Regions from separate parts of the Homo sapiens genome. Here region 2 is linked to region 1. Evidence: fine-mapped expression QTL. A gene starts in region 1. The other region holds a variant in brackets. All regions are shown on one strand. Distances are between the middles of the regions.

Region 1 (8,590 bases):
AACCACCTTGGCTACCAGTTTGTGCAGAGAGTGTTTGAGAAGCACGACCAGGTGAGAGCATGGCGAGTCCCCTGCCCCTGCCCCCGCCCCCTCCCCGGCACACACATCACCACATCCCTCCTTCTGCAGGACCGCGACGGCGCCCTCTCGCCCGTGGAGCTGCAAAGCCTTTTCAGTGTGTTCCCAGCAGCGCCCTGGGGCCCCGAGCTCCCACGCACAGTCCGCACAGAGGCCGGCCGGTTGCCCCTGCACGGATACCTCTGCCAGTGGACGTAAGTGCGGCCCACACCATGCCCGCCTGCCGCACCACCCTCCCCACCATAACACTGTGCCTGCCTCCCGCCCACCCCCAGCCTGGTGACCTACCTGGACGTCCGGAGCTGCCTTGGACACCTAGGCTACCTGGGCTACCCCACCCTCTGTGAGCAGGACCAGGCCCATGCCATCACAGGTAGGCACCCACCCTCCCTGGGCCTGGGCCCAGTATCCTGGCAGCTGCCCTAACCCGTGTCTATCCTCACAGTCACTCGTGAGAAGAGGCTGGACCAGGAGAAGGGACAGACGCAGCGGAGCGTCCTCCTGTGCAAGGTGGTAGGGGCCCGTGGAGTGGGCAAGTCTGCCTTCCTGCAGGCCTTTCTCGGCCGCGGCCTGGGGGTAAGCACCCTAGACTCCCCCACCACCCCAGGGGCTCCAGGGGCAGGGCAGGGCAATCTGGGGGGCACTGCAGCCAGCGAGTGTCAGGACTTCACCTCCCTCAGCACCAGGACACGAGGGAGCAGCCTCCCGGCTACGCCATCGACACGGTGCAGGTCAATGGACAGGAGAAGTACTTGATCGTGAGTGCTGGGGCGGCGCGGCCTGTGCCCGAGGGTGGACCCGGGGACACCCAGGCCTGCCTGGCAGATCTGGCCCAGCATGGCCCTAGGGGGACCGAGCCCCAGGGACCCTTCCTAAGGCCGCTGTCTGTCCCAGCTCTGTGAGGTGGGCACAGATGGTCTGCTGGCCACATCGCTGGACGCCACCTGTGACGTTGCCTGCTTGATGTTTGATGGCAGTGACCCAAAGTCCTTTGCACATTGTGCCAGCGTCTACAAGGTGGGGCCCTGCAGGGGCCACGTGGCCATGGGGCAGGGTCTGTCCCTCCAGCTGTGCCTCGGCCACCCCAGGACTGTACCTCATACCACTCTCTGCCCACAGCACCATTACATGGACGGGCAGACCCCCTGCCTCTTTGTCTCCTCCAAGGCCGACCTGCCCGAAGGTGTCGCGGTGTCTGGCCCATCACCGGCCGAGTTTTGCCGCAAGCACCGGCTACCCGCTCCCGTGCCGTTCTCCTGTGCTGGCCCAGCCGAGCCCAGCACCACCATCTTCACCCAGCTCGCCACCATGGCCGCCTTCCCGTGGGTACCCAGTAGCGCAGCCCTGGGGACTAGCAGTGTCTGTCATCCGAGCAGTGGGCAGCGGTGGTGTCAGGCCTGGAACTGGGGACTAGCAGTGTCTGTCATCCGAGCAGTGGGCAGCAGTGGCGTCAGGCCTGGAACTGGGGCCAGAGTGGCGGGGTGGAGCTTTGTGTGGCAGAGGGAGGCAGTGCCCAGGCATGTCCCTCCAGGGCCTGGCCTCCACCGGCTGTGCCTCTGGTCTGGGATCCCCGCCTGTGGGGCCCTGTGAGTCCAGGACATGGGAGGGTGCCCAGCAGCAAGCTGGGGGCATGTGCCTGAGGTATCTGCAGATGATTCTTCTCTCTTGCAGACATTTGGTCCACGCAGAGCTGCATCCCTCTTCCTTCTGGCTCCGGGGGCTGCTGGGGGTTGTCGGGGCCGCCGTGGCCGCAGTCCTCAGCTTCTCACTCTACAGGGTCCTGGTGAAGAGCCAGTGAGGCCCCTGGTACCCAAGCCCCCTCCCCTGACCTGGGTGTGCCTCGCTGCTGGGGCTCTGCAGGGGCAGCACAGCTGGGGTGCAGGCCAGGCTGCCACTCCGGGAACGCCTTTGCGCCGGGACTTTTTGTTTCTGAAGGCAGTCGATCTGCAGCGGGGCCTTATGCTGCCATGCACTGCCCTGGCTCCTGCCGGACCCCCAGGGTGGGCCGTGGCAGGTGGCTGAGCAGGAGCTCCCAAGTGCCGGCCACCGCTGTCAGGGATTGCCCACCCCTGGGCATCATGTGTGTGGGGCCGGGGAGCACAGGTGTGGGAGCTGGTGACCCCAGACCCAGAATTCTCAGGGCTCTACCCCCCTTTCCTGGTCCTAGGTGGCCAGTGGGTATGAGGAGGGCTGGAAGGCAGAGCTTTGGGCCAAAAGCAGGCGTTGGGGGGTCCCCCCTCAAGTTTGGAGCCGTTTCCGTGGTTGTAGCAGAGGACCGGAGGTTGGGTTCCTGATTAAACTTCACTGTGTGTTTTCTATCTCGGATCCCAGTCTCTGAAGACAACTTGCTTTGATTCAACCTAGAATGTGTTGTTTGTCTTTATGTGGGCTGGAAACGCCACCCCTCCTTTCATTCCTGGGTCACTGTTCTGAGGTCTCAGGCGTGTGCATATGGCCTCTGGAAGGTCCACTCTGGGCTGCTGTGGCCTGGGAGCCCAGTGTCCTTGGAGGTCCTGCGGTCTGGGAGTGGGAGCCCACTGCGGGAGGACGGTGCGCGCCCGGCATGGACTGGGGGGCGCCGGTGCCTGAGATGTTTCCCCGGTGACTGACCCCTTCTCAGGGTCCAGTGTGCCCTGGCACTGCCCACTCACTCCCCAGAGCGTCCTGCCAGCCTGGCTGAGCTGCGCCGAGAACCTGGGCTTGTGTGACCAGATGTGGTCACTGCCTGCCACAGAACGGGGTGACCCTGGGGCCCTGACCTGAGGGAAGCAGGATGGGCCAGAGGGAGGGACGGGCTGGGAGTTGAGCCCAGATGCCTGCTTCTCGGGACCCAGGGCGTGGCCTTCCCAAGGTCACCCGGACAAGTATCAGAAGGCCTGGTCCCCCCCCTCCCATGTCTGCCTTTAGGGAGTGGCAGGTGGGGCCCCTTCCCAAGTCCTGGCCCACACGGGCCCTGCCTTGGAGCTTGTGGCATTGGCCCCTGAGGTCCCTCCCGACTGATGGTATTTGAGCCCGCTGTACCCCCACGGCCTGTCTTCTGGGACTACTGCAACCCTAGGAGAAGCCCTCTGAGTGGCCCTTGCAGGGGCTGCCATAGTCACACGTGTCTTATCTGTCACCTCCATTGTGGAGGGGTTGGCCCGCCTTCCCAGGAGCAGGTCCCCTCATCCCAACTGCAGCCCTGCCCCCTGGGGGTTCTGCTCTGTGTTGGAATGCCCCTTGTGCCCAGCCCTGGCGCCGCCTTAGGGCGGGAGGTTTTGCTGTCCTGCATGGAGTTGCAAGAGTGGTCAGGGGCCTCCAGCCCAGGGTGTGGACGAGTGGGCTGGGCTTGGTCGTCAGAGCCAAGGCGGCTGCAGCAGCGTCTTCCTCCTCCTAAGAGGCGGCTGTAGTGGCCATGCGGGACGAGGGACTTCCTTGCTGCTGCGCTCGGTGGGGGGTTGCGGGGGGAGGGGGTGTGTCTGCTGCAAGCAGGGAGCTCCAGCCGGTGGCAACATGAACCGCAGGGAGTACTGGGTCAGCCTGGAGGGGGAGCAAGCAGTGGTCAGGGAAGGCTTCCTGGAAGAGGTGGCATCCTCACAGGCCTGAGCCCGGGAAGGCTGTGAGAGGGCGAACGGTCTTGCATGGGGGGTTTTAGGTGCCCCCCATCCCCGTGACTCCATTTACCAGCGGCTGCCGTGGAGGTAGTCCAGTGTGCTGGAGCTGCGCCAGAGCGGGGGTGGGGGCCGGCGCTGAGACGCGGTGCTAGCTGGAGGCGGTTCCTGTCCGGGGTGTGCGTCCGCGTGCAGGGTGCGCGCGTGTCTTGGCCGCGCGTGGCGGCGTGTGCGGCAGGGGCGGGCAGGCGGGCGACTCGGTGACGCGGCCCAAGCGCGGCGCCGAGCGGAGCGGGCGGAGCGGGCCGGCTGGGGCGGAGCGGAGTCGTCCGCAGAGCAGCCCCTCCCGGCCGCGGCCGCCGACCCCGGACCCCGGCCCCCGGCCAGGCTCTATGGACAGGAGCTCGCTGCTGCAGCTCATCCAGGAGCAGGTGCGTCGGGGGGTGGTCTGGGGAGCTGGCACCGCCCCCAATGCGGCCCTCCTGCCGCTGAGCTGAGCTTGTGCGGGACCGAGCTCCCCGAAAGCCCCGCTCGGTACCTACCTCATCCCTCCACGACCTTGGTCCGTGTGTCTGGGACCCCAGGAGAGGACTGACTGGACCAGAGCTCCTGGCTGGAGAAGGGAGAGTCGGGGGGAGGGAGGGAGGGAGGGAGGGAGGGCGGGCAGCTGGCTGGTCTTGGACCTTGGCCCTCGCTTTCCAGGATGGGTAGGGTGGAAGACGGGGGAACAACTGAGGAGCTGGAGGACTGGGACCCAGGCACCAGTGCCCTGCCAGCTCCTGGGATCAAGCAGGGTCCCAGGGAACAGACAGGCACGGGGCCCCTGTCCCAAAAGTGCTGGGAGCCTGAGCCTGATGCTCCCAGCCAGCCTGGCCCAGCCCTTTGGTCCAGGGGTCGGGCCCGCACTCAGGCCTTGGCTGGCGGCTCCTCACTGCAGCAGCTGGACCCCGAGAACACAGGCTTCATCGGTGCGGACACCTTCACTGGCCTGGTGCACAGCCATGAGCTGCCCCTGGACCCGGCCAAGCTGGACATGCTGGTGGCCCTGGCTCAGAGCAACGAGCAGGGCCAGGTCTGCTACCAGGAGCTGGTGGACCTGGTCAGTGCCACGGTGGGCAGGCGGCAGGGGCACGGTGTCCTGGCCAGAGGAGGCGGGCAGGCAGCTCCTCACGGCGGTGGGTGGGGGGCTTGTGGATGCGGGGAGCTGGGTGAGCCTCACAGGCAGGGGTGCCATGGGGAGGTCCGTGGCCCACACTCAGGCCCCTGCCCCCAGATCAGCAGCAAGCGCTCCAGCAGTTTCAAGCGGGCCATTGCTAACGGACAGCGGGCACTGCCCCGGGACGGGCCGCTGGATGAGCCAGGCCTAGGTGTCTACAAGCGGTTTGTGCGTTACGTGGCCTACGAGATCCTGCCTTGTGAGGTGGACCGCCGCTGGTACTTCTACCGTCACCGCAGCTGCCCACCCCCCGTGTTCATGGCCTCGGTCACTCTTGCCCAGGTGGGCCCCCCGGCCGCTGCCCCGGGAGCCTCCCGCGCTCCTGGCCATGACCAGCCTAACACTCGTGTCCCCAGATCATCGTGTTCCTGTGTTACGGGGCCCGCCTCAACAAGTGGGTGCTGCAGACCTACCACCCCGAGTACATGAAGAGCCCCCTTGTGTACCACCCCGGGCACCGTGCCCGCGCCTGGCGCTTCCTCACCTACATGTTCATGCACGTTGGGTGAGTAGCACTGCTGCCCGGTGAGCCCCGCCCCAACCTGCCATTACATCAGAAAGGCTTAGCCGCAAGGCAGGTGCGGCAACTTGAGGTGACGGCTGGGGGTGGGGCCGGATGGCTGACCCCACCCTTCGTACCCGTTTGCTTCCCTGTGGCCAGGCTGGAGCAGCTGGGGTTCAACGCCCTCCTGCAGCTGATGATCGGGGTGCCCCTGGAGATGGTGCACGGCCTGCTCCGCATCAGCCTGCTCTACCTGGCAGGCGTGCTGGCAGGTGAGGCAGGCGCGCACCCCCGCCCCCTGCCCTGGCCGGCTGCACCCTCACCCGCCGCTTGCTCACACAGGCTCCCTAACCGTCTCCATCACCGACATGCGGGCCCCGGTGGTGGGAGGCTCCGGCGGGGTCTACGCCCTGTGCTCGGCACACCTGGCCAACGTTGTCATGGTAACGGGCCTGCCCGGTGGGGGGCGTGGGGAGGGGCCCCAGGTGAGCCTCACCACTTCTCGTCTGCACACACCCATAGAACTGGGCTGGGATGAGATGTCCCTACAAGTTGCTGAGGATGGTGCTGGCCTTGGTGTGCAGTGAGTAGGGGCCGGGGGGAGGGCCGGGGGGCCTCTCAGCCTGCAGCCAGGGCACCTCCCACCTGCCGCGTCCCTCTGCAGTGAGCTCCGAGGTGGGCCGGGCCGTGTGGCTGCGCTTCTCCCCGCCGCTGCCCGCCTCGGGCCCACAGCCCAGCTTCATGGCGCACCTGGCAGGCGCGGTGGTGGGGGTGAGCATGGGCCTGACCATCCTGCGGAGCTACGAGGAGCGCCTGCGGGACCAGTGCGGCTGGTGGGTGGTGCTGCTGGCCTACGGCACCTTCCTGCTCTTCGCCGTCTTCTGGAACGTCTTCGCCTACGACCTGCTGGGCGCCCACATCCCCCCACCGCCCTGACCGGCTACCTGAGGCTGCACAGGCCAGGGCTCGGGCATGTGGTGGCCGCCCACCAGGGGCCTTCACGTCTGCCCTTTGTGAACGGACGTCTCAGGGCTGCTGTGCCCCTTGGGTGTGGGTGGCCTCAAAGGAGGCCCTGTCCCAGCCACCCACCCCCCACTCCCAGGACTTGCGGTCTGAGCCTTTTTGGATAATTAATAAATATTTTACACAGCACCAGGGGGCTGTCCCGGGCTCTGGAGACTCGTCAGGGCCCCCACACCTGCTGCACAGACCGCGACGGCCCTCCCCACCACGGGGGCCTGGACTTCCCTCCTTGTGCATCTCTGCACCTGGGGTCAGGCGTGGGAGTTGTTCCTGGGCCACAGGTGCTGTGTCTGTGGGAGCTGGGGGCACGCGGGATGGCTGGGGGCCGGGCGTGTGGTCAGGCCAGGTGTGTGGTCAGGCCGGGTGTGTGATCAGGCGTGAGTTTGGGAAGTGTTTATTGAGCTCCCGTAGTGGCCAGCCTCCTCTTCAGCCTCCCTGCCGTCCAGTGAGACCCGGAGGCCTGAGGTTCTGTGGCAGGTGAGCAGGCCTGGGCCATGGCCAAGTTTACTCGGCCTGGGTTCCATGCTTCTTGGCTGGCCTAGCATCCTCGTGGGTGGCCAGGCTGGGGCCAAGGTTGGGCAGCAGGTCTGGGCACAGCCTCTGCCCCACAGCCCAGGTCCACAGTGCTGTCTCCACTAGGTAGGGAGTCCACTGTCCTGAGGCACTGGCTAGGGAGGGGCACACGGACTCAGGCCCAGGGGCACGGGCCACCCCAACCTGCCCACACACAGTTCATTCCCCTTGGCTCAGAGCTGTGGCCCGCTCTTGAACCTGGCCCAGGTACAGCAGGTAGTACCTGAGGGTGTACTGTGGGGCCGGCCAGCCGGGCACTGTGGCCACCGCCTCATCTGACATGAAGGCCTCCATCTCTGGAGCTCCAGCTGCCAGGACTGCTGTGAACAGCGAGGAGAAGCAGCCAGACACACCCCATCAGGACAAGCTCTGGGAGACCCTGCTCCCAGCAGCCCAGGGCCCTATGGTTCCTGCTCCTAGCGACACGCAAGGGCCCAGACTGCCCGCTTCACAGACAAGAACGCCTATGTACCCAAGTCGTGCCCACCCAACTCACCCGAGGCTGTGGTGGGCCCACACCGCAGAGGGCACACAGCTCGGTGACTGCAGCCCCCACATCTGGCAGGAGGCAGAAGGTGGCGGTCGAACAGTGCACAACCAGCTCAGGGGGATTGGTGGCCACCAGCTGCTGCAGACGTGGCCGGAAGCGCCCCTCTGTGGGAGGCCAGGTCAGGGTGCCTGGGGTGCTGGACCCACCAGGGAGGCCCCGCCCCCACTGGAGACACCCGCCCCGCCGATGCCACGCCCCAATGAAGACCCGCGCTACGGAGGCCCTGCCCTCGGGGCGGGCCGCCCTTCACAGTCAAGCTGCCAGGCCAGCAGCCGCTCCAGCTCCCTGTCACATGCTTCTCTGCTCTGCCCCTGATGGCCGCTGGCAACTCTTCCCGATACCTGAGGAAGGGCGGTGAGGGGAGGACTGGCCACGGAGGACGCTCGCCCCACCGATCTCTATCCCCTTCCACTCTACCAACAGTCCGGGGCTTCCAGCCGCCCTCGGGGGCTCGCGCTCGCCCGTAGCACCTCTCGTGGCGCTCCAGAATGGCAGCCCAGCGACTGGGGTCCTCACACCCCACAGCGCGTGGGAAGCCGCTACGTTCACGCGCAGGGGCGGGAGGCGGCGGCTGGGGGCGGGGCCTCTGCTGATGGGGCCGGGTGCTGGGGGCGGGGCCTCTGGATTGGGCGGTTGCTGGGGGCGGGGCCTCTGCGGATGGGGCTGGGGGCGGGGCCTCTGCTGATGGGGCCGGCGGCTGGGGGCGGGGCCTCTGGATTGGGCGGCTGCTGGGGGCGGGGCCTCTGCGGATGGGGCCGGCTGCTGGGGGCGGGGCCTCTGGATGGGGCCGGCTGCCGGGGGAGGGGTCTCTGCGCGTTGGGACAGGGGCGGAACCCCAGGTGGTCGGGACAGGCTGTTGCGGGAGCGCGCCCTCAGCGAAGCAAGTGAGGCATCTCACTGGGAAAGTCGAATGTGTGTGGCGGCCGCCGCCGAGGCGGGTTCCGAAGAGACCTCAGCAGGGCAGGCCAGGGCCTACGCGAACGCCCACCCTTAAGAGCGCGGGGACAGGGAACTGGAGCGTTCCTCCCAGCCCCCGACGTCGCGGGCCCAGTGTCCCC
Region 2 (13,130 bases), 110 kb before region 1:
GGAGAAAAGTTTCCTGTCCCCTCCCAGCCTCGTCCCAGGGTGGCCTCTGCCCCCACACGGGTGCTGCTGAGCAAAGCGCCCGCTCGGAGGCTCTGCTGTCTCCCTGGACGGAGTTGGGGGCTGGGGTGCGGCCGGCGCGGGGTAAGAGGCTGTCACGGGCAGCGTATCGAATGTGAAAGCAATTAAAGCCACCAGCAGTGTTCGCTCCGGGCGGGCCTCGGGCGGCGGGGAGCTGCCAGAACACATCTCACCTCGGTGCCCGCGGACGCCGGCCCTGCTGCTCCGCGACTGCGCCACGTCACACTCCTCCTGTGGGTGGGGGCCGGGCTCGTGCCCGCTCCTGTTTGGCACAGAGCTGGCTCTGTCTAGTCCTGGGGTATCTGGGACCCCCGTTCCTCCCGAGACCCTGCTCCTCTGTCCCTGGCCCCACCCCCACCACCACCCACCTCTCTGGCTTCTGCCACCCCAGTCCTGGGGTGGCCCAGGACAGAGGCCCACAAGAAGGACCCTCCTTCTTGCAGGAGTCCCGCACAGCAGGCAAGGGGTCCGTGCCCACCCCCTCAGCTGCCCAGAGTCCCCACTAGCCCAGCCAGCAGCCTCCTCTCCACTTGAAAGCCCCCGGGAGCAGCTCCCACAGGGAGGTGATGAGGGAAAGGGGGGGCGTCTGCAGAGGACTCAGGGTCCCACAGCACAGACCCTGCCAGGTGTTGGGCCGGGGCCACGTGAGGGGCTGCTGCGGAGGCCTGGAGGAGGCGGCTGGCAGCAGGTAAGGGGAAAAGATGCGAGCGTCCTGCAGGCAGCAGGGAGGATTGGCTGGGCAGGACACACAGCCCTGGCGCGGGGCAGACCTTGGTGGCAGCTGTCGGGGCTGACTCCTTCCCACTGTCACTGCCCGGCCCCCGCCCAGCCCTCCCCTCCCTTCTCTGTGCAGGCCTCTCCCCTCCCCCGCATCTCCTCCTGGGTCTCACCCCCACCAACAGCACCATCTCTCTGGTGTATCTGGTCTGTCCCAGCCCTGTGCCCCCACGGTGCCCTCTCCTGGCCCCTCTTGTTGGCGCTGCTGGCCACAGCCTTCCCGGGGTGGGCAGTGGCAAGTTCTCACTTATGAGGCATCGCTGTCAGAAGCATTTAGTGTACAAATTAGCCGTGGCCTCCTCGCCTCCTTCCACAGCTCTGGGCTCCAGGCTGACTGGGCCGCGGCTCCAGGCCCTCTCCCGCCTGCCCGGGGCGCACTGCTGCCCAGTGTGGACCCCTGGCTGCCTGCCCATGTCCTGGCAGGAGTGCCCGCTCCCCACTGGCCGGCCAGGGCTCCTCTAGGACCCCGACCTAGACCTGGGCAGGGGTGGCCATGGCAGGCCGGGGGTGCTCAGTGAGGTTTTGGGGGGTGGGAGGCCAAGGCCCAGGACCCGGATCTACCCCAACAGTGGCCAGCCCTGGTGCTGAGGGCTATGGGGGGGCTGGACATGGGGCCCCACCACCCCACCTGCCAGTTGGAGGCCCCGCCACCCCGCCCGCCAGCCCGCCTGCCACTCAGGCGGGGAAAATCATCTGTGACAGGCCCAGGAAGGCCAGCCCCGGGGGCCGCAGAGAGACACACACAGCTCCTCTTCCCAACATATGGCTGCTGTCGGCCCCGGGCGCTGCTGGCCAGTGCCAGGCTCGGGAGCCGGTGGGGGCTCGAGCAGCCTCAGCCTCCCGTCCCACCCGCCTGGCTGGCTGCCCCCTCTGTCAGTCTACATCCCAGCCTCCTGGGACGGGGCTCACTCCCACCACAGCAGCTCAGCCCTCCAAGGAGCGTCCTGTACCCTCCTCCGTCCCAGAGGCTCAGGACACACAGAGGGTCAGCCCCGCACCCGGCCCAGGGTGGCCAGTGACCCGGCACGTCTATGAGAGTGTAGTGCATGGGGAAGGGCCCAGCTGGGGTCTTCCAGAGCCGGGAGGCGGGTGGGGAGGGGACTCTCTGGTGTGGACTCTGGGATGGTCAGGGCTGCTGGGGAGGACTATCCCTGGTAGTGCTCGAGCCGGAAGACTCCTGGAGCCCCCATTCAGGCGCCTCCTAACAGGGCCCCCGTTCCCTCAGGTGGATGGACCCAGGGACCCCAGAGCTCCGCAGGCTCTTCGTGTGCCCCCCACACCCTTGGGCCGTTGTCCTGGGCGCTCTGGCCCACTCGGTTGCCCAGCCCCCTCCGTTCTCCCCTGGCACCCCCACTGTGTACCCGCCCATCAAGGCCAGCAGCCTCAGGCTGGTGCCGAGGGCCCTCACGTGTATCCATGACCCCTTCCGCCAAGGCTGGGCTGCCCCTCTCAACCAGGGATCCTCAAGTGGGCAGCAAGGAGGAAGCCCCCAGGAGGCCTATGCTCTGTAGACCTGGGGTTCTTGAAGTGCTCAGGGTGGCCACAGGCCCTGGGGTCCGTTATTGAAAGGACAGACATCAGCTGTGTCCGGACACCTTGCAAGGTACTGACCCCACGTGGGGGCTCCAACCTGCTGCCGCTGGATAGATTGCCCCGGTCTCAGGACCTGCGTGGGGCCTCCAGCCTGGCTGCAGCCCTGACACTGCCCTCACTGTGTGGGTGCAGGCACCCCGGCCCCTGCACCTGTCCTGACACTGGCTGTGTGTCGACACTGAGGGGATGAGACAGGCCTGCCCCCGGGCACTGGCCATGCCGAGCGCTGCCTCCGCTGCCTTCTCTGAGCCCAGCTCTCCGTCCTGCCCGTGAGCCCCCGGCACAGAGTCCCATTGTTAATGGAGGTGACAGGCGGGCAGCCGTGGGCAGACCGGGCAGAAGAGGTTAATGGCCAAAAATGAGCTTCTGGCTGGAGGCAGAAGGAGGGGCCATGGGGTCCCCATCCCACCCTGCACTGGGACTGGCTAAGGAGACATCAGGGCACCCACTAGGACCAGAGCAGAAGTGCCCGGACACTGAGCACCCCACTGCCCATTCTGCAGATGGGGGCCATGGGCCAGAAAGTTGGGGGGGTGGGGGCACAGGTGCCAAAACAGAGTCCCAGTCACTGCCTCAGGAAGCAGAAGCCACCTCTCCAAACCCAAAGTCAGCCCAGTGTGCAAGAGCTGGGACCAAGCAGGTGGGTCATGGCCACAGTGAGGAAGCTGACGTGCCCAGGGGGCCCTGTGGTTGCGGGGTGCTGGCACTGATATCCCGGCCTCGCCTGGCTGTTTGTGATGGGAACAGTCATCTGGGCACCCAGTGTACTGGCCTCACATGCTCCTCACCCCCCACCTCGTGCACGGCTGAATCTCAGGACCCCCACCAGCAGGTGCAGGGCCCCCTCATCCTCCCTGCCAGAGTCCTTCCGGGAGGCCAGAAACACGTCCAAGTTGTGCCCCGGGGCCCCTCTCGAGGCTGCCCCTCTTCTCTTCTCATGCAAACTTCTGCAAAGGCCCATCGGTGGTGAGGGGTGGAGGTGCTCCTTCAGCCTGCTCAGCGCTAGACACGGCCTTGTTCCCCCTCTGGGGCTCCTTGGTCCCCTGAGCTTCACTGGGCTTTATTTCCTGTATGCTGACATCTAGGTGCTCCAAGACCAGGCCTCCCTGCTCCCTACTTTCCTCCCCTGGACAATGGCCAGAGCCTCCAGCCAGTTGGTCTCCTGTGCTGTCAGCTGTGGCCTCTTCCAGACCTTCAAAGGGGTCAGTCTCGGGCTGGCCACTGAGGGACTACTGGTGTCAGGGTGACCTTGGACCCTAGTCTCCCGGGGCAGTGCTCAGCTGAACACGTCCAGAGTAGAGTCTATGTACAGAAGCAGCCGGCCTCCTGGCCCCCGCTCTCCACGGGGCTGCTGGCGTGACGGCAGCCCAAGCTGTCTCCCGGCCCGGAGCTGCCTGCACGGTCAGCTGGTCAGCTGGGCCAGGCCAGGTGGGCAGAGAGAAGGCTGGCATGCTCTGCCATCCACAGCACCCCTCCCAGTCCCCTGCCCCGCCCCAGGGACTTCCCTCAGACGGGCGTGTGCGGCTGTGTCAGGGAAGGTGGCATGGAGGCAGGAGGGAGACAGAGCCCCACGCCCACCCCAGAACCAGGGGCTGTTCCTCATGGACCCTGGGTGTGCTCTACCAGGGGGCTCTGCCAGCAGCCGGACCGGGGCCACGGAGATGCTGCTGAGCTCTCTTCTCTGCCCCATTCGAGGGGTGACACCCAGAAGCCCCGTGGGGTCCTCCCTTCTTCCCCAAGGCACCCCTGACCCCGACCTGAGCTGGGGACAGCCCGGGAGCCTGCGGCTGAGCCTGCAGAGAGCCCCAGGTCCTGGGGAGCTATGTGGGCCGGGCTCCCTGTGCTGTTTCAGAGTCAGCAGGGAGTAGCACACTCCCCTCTGGCTGGAGACCCCGAGACGCCCGCCTACCGCAAGTGTCGGGTTTAGGACGTCTCCCCTGAGCGAAGTCAGGGGCTCTGCCCCAGCCATGCCTGTGTCCGGGAGGGAGCAGGCCGGTCAGGCGAACCTCCCCTAGGCCCCAGCTGAGCAGTGGGGCTCCAGGCCTTTACGTTCTGGCAGCTCAGGGAGCTGCTTGGAACTTGGTGCAGCCCGGGAGGTGGGGCTGGGAGCAGCCCTGGCCCTGCTTCTCTCCTCCACCGCCCCAGGTCCTCTCAGGAGGGGACTCCCGTGGGGAGGGGGTCTTTCAAACAGCAGGGAAGTGCGTGGCCTCGTGGGGCAGCGCTGAGGCACCTCCCACAGGAGCCGGGAGTGAGGGCTGGAGGGGTCCGCATCCAGGAAGGGGGAGGGTGCTGGAGACCAGCCCCAGGTGGAGGCGGTCAGCCGGCAGGGCGGGGTGCGAGGGGCCGGTCCGGGCAGCCTCCGGTTTAGAGGAAAAGAGAACGGAGGGCAGGGCTCGCCCAGGGAGGGCAAGGAAGGGAGCCCGGCTCCGCTGGCTCAGTCCGCGGCACCCCTGTCCCCCAGGACAGCCCCCAGGGGCCCTGGCTCGGGTGGGCCGGCGGCTGTCAGGGGCCAGAGCCCTGATGGATAAGCGCTGACGGCCCCTCTCCCGCGCCCCGCGCCGCTGACACCCATCACGCCGCGGCGGGGACCCGGGAGACCTGGCGGCCTCTGTGCACCCCCGCGGCAGCCTGCGGGCAACGGGGGCGGGAGGCGCCGGGCGCCCCTGACTCGGCCGCACACCTGCGCCGCAGTCCGCTCTCCGTCCGCTGCCTCCCGGGTTCCCGGCCGCTCCACCGCGCGCCCCGAGAGCTGAGCCGGTCCCGGCGCACGAGGCCGGTGAGTGCGCGCCAGGGGGCGGCGGGGGGCGCGCGGGCGGCGGGGGCGCGGGGTTCGGGCCGGGGGCTGCTCCTTCCCTCCCGCCGCGAGCGCGGTCGGAGGTCGCAGCGCCCCCCGGAGCCCGGAGCCCAGGCGCACGCGCGCCCGCCTCTGCCGCCAACTTCGGGAGGTGCGAGCGGCGTCGGGGGGACGCGGGCGGCGGCGGAGGCTGCGGGAGTCGCTGCCGCTCGAGGGACCGCGGACCCGGGAGGTCCGGCTCCCGGCGCCGGGCCTCAGTTTCCCCCACGGGAGCCGCATCCCACCCCCAGAGCCCCAGCGCGTCCGCGGGGTCCGAGTCGCGGCCGGCGCGGGGCGGGGAGGGGCGGGAAGTTTGCGCCCTACACGCGGCCTCGCAGACTTGGCGGCTCCGCTCCCGGCCGGGCGCAGGTAGGAGCGGCGGGAGCCGCGGGGGCGGCCAGTTGGGCGTCGCGGGGCCGGCTGGACGCGGGGCGCGGGGGCAGCGGGTGGCCAGGCGTGTGGGGGGCGCGGGGGGCGGCCGGGTCCCCCCCACCCTCTTCTCGAAGTCCAGGAGCAGCGCGGGGGGAGGGAGGGCCGCCCTCAGGGGCCAGGCGGGGAGGGCAGGGGCCGGGTCTGGGGTCTGGGGCAGACGCCTGACCTCGCGCTCGCCGCACCCGCCTGTGTGGGGCGCCCTGCGTTCCCGGGGGGGGGGGCAGCAGGATCTGCGGGTGGCCGATCAGGGTCCCCGGCTGCTGGGTGCCCCCTCCTGCCCTGTGGGGGTGCCTGTGCCCCCCGTGCCACCGGTTCTCCCCCAGCTCTCCCCCAAACAGGGACAGGTGAGTGGGGCCGGGTGTCGGGGCCTGGCACAGGGCTGCTGGCTGCCCCGGGAGCGATTGCCGGGTCCGGCTGGGACGCGCGTGTGAGTGCGTATGCGTTTGTGTGTGCGTGTGGCTGCTGTCCAGGGGTGTCTTTTGCTCTGTGTACACACACCAGGTGGGTGCCAGCTATCCTCCGGGTCCCCAAGGGGTCAGCAGCTGCTGAGACAGCCCCTTGGACAAGCCCCTGACCCGGGAGCCCCCGGTCCCTGCTGGGAGGCGGGATGGGTTGTGGCATCGGCTGGCACAGCTGTGTGGCTCCCAGGGCTGGGTGATCGATGGCCCGGCACAGCCGCCTCTGTCGCCGGAGCGCCCACACCCATTTGTCATCCACATGGGTGGGGGGGGCGGCGGGCAGGGAGAAGGGGCCGCCTCTGCACCCACCACCCAGTCCAGGCCGGGTCTGCAGCCCCTCGGGGAGCCCCAGGACCTCTCCTGGCCCAGCCCCTGCCTCCCGACCGCCACCCTGTCTCAGCCACAGACCAGCTGGTCAGCCTCTGCCTGCCCCTGCAGCCCGTGACTGCCCTGCAGGGCCCCAAGCCTTTGGACGAGTGGACTTCTCCAGCCCTGTTGGTCGTCCCCCCAACGGCACCAACACAGTGTTTTGGGGGCAGCAGACAGCAGTGCCCCAGCCCTACCCTGCTCAACCCACTGGCCATGCATGACCACGGGTGCGACCCCCAGCCAGGTCTGCGTGTGTCCTGGGGAGTCGGTGTGTAGGGCCTGTGTGAGCATGTGAGTGCCGTGTTGGAGTGGTTTGGAAAGCCCCCCCACACCTGGATGGGTGGTGAGTGTGTTATCACGGACAAGCAGCCGTGTTCACCGTGATGGAGTGTGAGGTGTGTGCAGCCAGGGCCCCGCACTTGGTGGCAGACTCCGTTCTGAGCTTAGGTGGCACAGAGGTGGCTTCTCCGGGCACTGGGTGAGGGCTCTGTGTGAGCCTGTGGGCTGTGTACACACACCCAAAGCCCGTGTGCGCAGGCGTGCTGTGCACCCCACACAGGCGCGTGCTGGGGCGGTGGACAGCCCAGGTGGCGGCCCAGATGGAGTGTGGCGCGCATACCAGCGCCGTGTGGGGCGTGGGGAGGAGCGGGTCTTGGCTGAGTGTGGCCGCTGCAGGCTCGGCCGCTGACCTGCCCGAAGCCACCCAGATGGAGCTGGGCTGAGCAGGTGGCTGAGCCGTGGGGCCATGCTGGGACGTCCACTCCCCACAGCCTGGCCTGGCCCCACATGAGACTGACCCCCTAAGAGACCCCCAGTGCCCACCTGACGCCCTGCTAGAGCAGGCTCTGTGCCGCCTTTAGACACACACGCATACACACGCACTCACACATGCATGCATGCACACATGCACACACAATGCACACACGTGCACATGAACACAAGCATGCACAGAGGCACATGCACACACAGGCGCACACACGTGTGCACACACACGCACATGCACGCACACACACGTGCATGCACACGCACACATGCACACACACAGACACACACAGGCACACACACACACACGCAGCATCATCCCACACAGACCCTTCCGTTGGTGTCTCATCTCAGTGCCTTTTCCTAGGCTTTGAACAGGCAGATTGGCAGGGGCCAGGGTTGCTGGAGGGAATGAGACCAGGAGGCTGACGTCCACCCGAAGTGAGCTCTGGTCACGCTGATTCTTTTAGCCACTCACATGCTGTGGGGAGATGGGTGTGGGCTGAACTATCCTAGAAATTGGCCAGCAAGTCGGCCTGGCCTCAGGGGTGGGGATGTGTGTAGGGTCAACCGATAAAATAAAGGACGCCTAGTTAAAATCGAATTTCCGATAAACAATGAACACCTTTCTAGTGTGCCTTTCCAATATTGCCTAGGCTACACTTAACACTCAGAAATGACGTGCTGCTGATCGGCGTCAGATGCAGCTCGCTGTCCTGGACTTTTTTTTTTTTTTTTGGTGCCCTGGACTTTGCTGCCACCCTGGAAGTGCACGTGGGGAGGAGCCGAAGGATGGGGCTCGGGGGGCACGTTGCAGGGCAGAGGCGGCGGGGTGGGGGGAGCACCCAGGCTCC[A/G]GTCCCTGGAGCCTGGGGAGCCATGGATGGAGAGGAGTGGGGAGTTAGTCAGAGGCAGGCTTGGCACTGACTGTGGCCCCATCTACAGGTGGCCATGGTGCCCGGCCCTGCCTCATAGCAGGCTGCCATGTCGCGGGAGGCGGGCTCATGCCGCGTGGGCACAGGGGCGAGGGCGCGGTCTCGGAAGCCCAAGAAGCCACACTACATCCCGCGGCCCTGGGGCAAACCCTACAACTACAAATGCTTCCAGTGCCCCTTCACCTGCCTGGAGAAGTCACACCTCTACAACCACATGAAGTACAGCCTCTGCAAGGACTCCCTGTCCCTGCTGCTAGACTCCCCAGACTGGGCGTGCCGCCGTGGCTCCACCACGCCTAGGCCCCACGCACCCACCCCAGACCGCCCTGGGGAGTCCGACCCCGGCAGGCAACCCCAGGGAGCACGGCCCACAGGTGCTGCCCCCGCGCCTGACCTCGTGGTCGCCGACATCCACTCCCTGCACTGTGGCGGAGGCCCCAAGTCCAGGGCCAAGGGGTCCCCAGGGCCACCACCCCCTGTGGCTAGGGCCACCCGGAAGGGTCCCGGCCCCAGTGGGCTCCTGCCTGAGTCGTGGAAGCCGGGGATGGGAGGGGACCCAAGGGGCGTGGGTGCGGGGGACATGGCCTCAGCAGGCCCTGAGGGCAGCGTCCCCTGCTATCCCCCGCCTGCCCCAGGGGAGTTCCCTGAGGCCCACAGCCTCCACCTGTCTCTGCTGGGCGTCAACTACCCGCTCAGCCCCGGCCTCTTCTCCTACTTGGGGCCCTCACTGGCCGCTGCAGCCCATGTGCCCTTCCTGGCCTCGGCCAGCCCCCTGCTGCCCCCGGCCACGGCCTTCCCAGCCGTGCAGCCCCCTCAGCGCCCCACCCCGGCCCCCCGCCTGTACTACCCGCTGCTTCTGGAGCACACTCTGGGGCTGCCAGCAGGCAAAGCTGCCCTTGCCAAGGCCCCTGTCTCCCCCAGGAGCCCCTCTGGGACTCCGGCTCCTGGCCTGCTGAAGGTGCCAGTTCCAGGGCTGGGGCCCTGGCCCCGAGTCACCCCCAGGGACCCAGGGCAGGAGGGGGAGCTGGAGCGGGCAGCCCAGAGTGACCCCAGGAGGAGGCTGTCCCTGGGAAGCAGGCTGGAGCTTCCGAAGGCATCCCCCAGCCTGACAAGGTTCTGTTCCCGGAGCAGGTGGGCGTCTTGGGCTCCCGGTTCCTGGGGTGGACGGAGGGGCTGGGCGGCTGGGCATGGCGGTTGGGCGGCTGGGCATGGCGGCTGGGGTCCGTCCTGAGCTCAGTCGCTGGGAAAGTGGGCTCCAGGCCACAGAGGGGAACTGAGACCCGAGAGCCAGCGCGGGGGTCCTCGGGGTCTCCAGGAGAGCCTAGGCTCTAGGCTGGGGCCACAGGGCAGAGGCCGTGAGGGGAGAGGGGCAGGGGCCGGGGGCGCTGTGGGGGCAGTGCGGCCTCCTGACCAGCTTCCACCCCACAGCCTGCCCACCGGCTCCTCTGTGATGCTGTGGCCTGAGGACGGGGATCCAGGCGGCCCTGAGACCCCCGGCCCTGAGGGCCCCCTCCCCCTGCAGCCACGGGGCCCAGTGCCAGGAAGCCCGGAGCATGTGGGCGAGGACCTGACCCGAGCCCTCGGTGACTACGCCAGGGTGGAGCAGCGCCTGGGACAGTTGGGGCCCGCGGGGGGCCTGGCCCCGAGACCCCTGCGGGAGCAGCTGGGCAAGATCCGCCTGGAGCTGCTCACCATTCACCAGGCGCTGGAGCAGGCCGTGAGGCCGCCAGACGCACCCCTCGACCTCTCTGTGAAACGTGCGCCCGCCAAGGGGCCCCAGGCTCTTGGAGAGGCGTGGGGGCGGCCCGAGCTGGGTCCCGTGTTGACCGGGGGCACCCCCGAGCCACCCGGCATGCTGGGCCCTGCAGCGCCCCAACCCTTCTCTGGCCACACCACCAAGTGTGAGGCCGACTCCAGCGTCCCACCCCCAGGGCTCCCCCTCGCAGCCCCAGATGACCCTGTCATTCCTGGCAGTGGCTGGGGCACCTGTGTTGCGACGAGGAGTTCCCAGACCCCTGAGGCTGTCTGTGGCCTGCAGAGCCCCCAGGGCGCCGAGGTCTGACCTGCAGCGCCTGAGGTCTGACTGTCTCTGCCTGCAGCATGCCGGCCCCTCTCCTGCAGCCCCTGCCCCTCACCTGCCTGGGACCTGCCCCGCCTCCGCATGCATGTGGATAGACCCCCACGGGCCGTGGCCAACGCTTGTCCCTGGGGCCACACAGGGACACTGGAGGTCACAGTTATTTATTGATCACAATTGTGGACATTAAAACAGAAACTGTTCACACACGCCGTCTGTGCCTCCTTCCTTTGGGGCCCTAGTGTAGCCACCTGGACACCCCCCTAAGGAAGTGTCCTGGCCTGGGAGGCCTGGGTGGGCAGCAGTCCTGCTGGGCCTCTGTCTTCAGACTCGGCCCTCTCCTGTGGGCTGGGCCCTCCCCGCGGGGCTGGGGTCTGGGGGTGGGGCGGGACATCGGCGACGGGAGCTGAGCCAGGAGAGCCGTGTGGACTGGGCTGCTCGGCCTGTGTCTTGGTGTGTCGGGGGTGGAGAGGCGTGTGGACTGGGCTGCTCGGCCTGTGTCTTGGTGTGTCGGGGGTGGGCACGGACCCCTGAACATCCTCTAGCCTCTGAATCCAGCAAGGCCGCGCTCATATCAGCTCTCCTGCGGTTAAACGGTGGCCCCGGGGCTCTGTGGCTGGAGGCTGCTCACCCAGCGTGGGCTCTGCTGGCCCCTGCCAGCCCCTGCAGCCGTGATAGGTATCAGCCTTCACAGCTCACTGCCTCCCTCCCAGCAGGGCCTGGCTTGGCCCTCCCACGGGCAGGGGATGGGCAGACAGGGAGGGGCACCCGGGACCCCCACAGCAAATCACTTCTCTCCTGGGAGAGCTGGCCACACCCTCCACGCCCACCCTGGAATGGGCTCTGGAGCCCACATCGCCCCCCCAGGAGGAGAAGCAGTTCCTGCCTGCGTCCAGCCGGGCTGGGGCCAGTCCAAGCAGGCTGGCAGCGGCCCCATTAACTACCAGGGAGATAGCATCAGCCCCGACCCTGCCTCGGGGCAGCTAGAGCTGGGGTGCTGCCTGGCCAGGCGCGGAGTGCTGTGGGGACAGGTCCCAGCCGGGCCCCTCTACCCAGAGGCTTCCTGGAGGGGCTGCAGGGGGCTCTGGGCAGCCAGGAACTGTTCCCAAGTCCCGAGTCTGAGGGAGACTCCCTGTCCTCAGCCCCCGCCCCCCATATGTCCACTGCACCCCATATGTCCACTGCACCTCAGTTTCTCACCCCCACTGAGCAGACAGGTGAGCATGGCCTTGCTGGGGGCAACAGCACCCGTCTCCCAGGTGTGGAGACACGACCTCCTTCGCTGTCACCCGTGGGGAGCAGGACAGGCCTCATGGAGGGTGCCTCAGCCAGCAGGTCACCCGCCTGTGGTCCAGACCCAAGGACCCTGCTTGGGGGTGGCAGCCTGGGGCTGCCTTGCCACTTGGAGTAATGAACTTGCTGGTTGTGGGGGGACCATGGGGGACCCCTGGAGGGGGGTGGGCTGCATGGCATCTGGCCGTGTAGGGGACGTGGGAATAGTGTCCGGGCAGAGGGCGCAGCCTGCAACAAGGCGCGGAGGCAGGAACACCACAGCATGGGGAGTCCTCAGGGGACCTGGTTTTTCTTTCATAGAAGCTTCAGGGGCCAAGGCCGGAGACTGCACTCTCCCTCCTCCACCCGGCCCAGCTGCGTCCCTGCCAGTGGCTCCTCCCACTTCCTCCAGTTCTAGTTTCCAACAACAGAGGCTGCAGCCACCCAGCCCCGAAGCAGGGCCCAGCGAGACAGGGCCCAGGTAAGAGACCCCTCCCCCCGGCCTCTCTCGGTGGGGCAGGTGGAGGCCCTCGGAATAGGCTGCCTCGCCCCTAAGGGGTCAGAAGTCTCCCTGACCTAGGGGCTCGGGTAGAAGGGCTGTGTGTGGGTGACCGCCCCCCCGCCGTAGAAAGGGGTTCCACAGGCAGATGGATTTGAGAAATGTTGCTTATCTGTCTGAGGCCCATGAGCTCATCTGGGGCTCAGGGGAAAACCCACAGCGAGCTCCACGGGTCATGTGTCTCCCAGACTCAAGTCCCAGGCACCTAGACACTAGGGTGGCCGCTGGGCTTGGTGGCCAGGTAGACCCTCAGGACCAGGAGGACCCGGCCTCATAGGAAGAAACTGGAGGAGTGACTTTGCCATTCCCACACACAGTGGGGCCTTATTCTCTCTCTTGCAGCCCCAAGCGTGACCCAGCTGCAGAGAAGCTGAGACGGTGATTCGGACTGACTGGACTCTGGCCTCCAGGTGTCTGCACCTCACACTGGACCCACCTGGAGACTCCACGGGCTCCCGGCAGCTCCGGCTGCTTGGGTGGATCCGGGTGCCCGCAGGGGCTGTGGGAGGGCCCCGGGGCCTGCACTGCTCCCCCGATGGCCTGCTCTTCCTCACGGCCGGGGCTGCACCCTGTGTCCACGTGCTAGATCTGGAGGGACGCCCCATCTGCCTCCTGCCCTGCCGCACTCCGGGGAGCGGGGCCTTCGTTCCAGAGGACGTGGCTGTGACAGCGTCAGGGCTTGTGGTGGTCAGCGATCCCATCCATGGGGCTGTCCATGCACTCCAGCACACAGCCCGGGACCCCGGGGGCCACTGGGTGACAGTGGGCACCTTCCTGTCTCCCCGAGGGCTGGCTGTGGATGCCCTCAACCGCCTCCTGGTGACGGACTACTTGCCTGGGGCTGTGCACAGCTTCTCGTTGGGTCCTGCTTGGGAGCCCCTGGCCCCAGCCTCCATGCTGGGTCTGGAGGGCCCCTGCTGGGTGGGCCCAGGGCCTGATGGGGGCCTTGCTGTGAGTGAGGAGTTTGGGGATGTGAGGCTGTTTGGCA

The links. PIP is the estimated chance that this variant, and not a neighbour inherited with it, causes the effect.
Region 2: its variant is fine-mapped to the expression of RHBDL1 in subcutaneous fat (GTEx, PIP 0.94).

The regions. Positions count from the first base shown.
Region 1 is chr16:671,731-680,320 of GRCh38, forward strand. It overlaps RHBDL1 (rhomboid like 1), which reads left to right and starts at 3,941. Exons shown (of 8, transcript NM_001278720.2): 1 at 3,941-4,099; 2 at 4,606-4,767; 3 at 4,942-5,166; 4 at 5,241-5,389; 5 at 5,546-5,658; 6 at 5,729-5,829; 7 at 5,909-5,969; 8 at 6,051-6,538. The coding sequence starts at 4,061. The coding sequence ends at 6,322. It overlaps RHOT2 (ras homolog family member T2), which reads left to right. Exons shown (of 19, transcript NM_138769.3): 12 at 1-51; 13 at 130-272; 14 at 354-451; 15 at 524-654; 16 at 759-836; 17 at 973-1,095; 18 at 1,198-1,400; 19 at 1,750-2,441. The coding sequence ends at 1,876. It also overlaps the pseudogene STUB1-DT. RefSeq lists an enhancer at 3,233-3,767 and silencers at 3,966-4,015, 8,159-8,268, 8,549-8,590.
Region 2 is chr16:555,012-568,141 of GRCh38, forward strand. PRR35 (proline rich 35) reads left to right here and starts at 5,383. Exons shown (of 3, transcript NM_145270.3): 1 at 5,383-5,650; 2 at 8,245-9,365; 3 at 9,663-10,518. The coding sequence starts at 8,284. The coding sequence ends at 10,296. It overlaps NHLRC4 (NHL repeat containing 4), which reads left to right and starts at 11,994. Exons shown (of 2, transcript NM_001301159.2): 1 at 11,994-12,064; 2 at 12,460-13,130. The coding sequence starts at 13,037. RefSeq lists enhancers at 5,507-6,053, 6,054-6,599, 9,633-10,529, 11,425-12,320, 12,269-12,318. The variant A/G (reference allele first, on the strand shown) is at 8,157.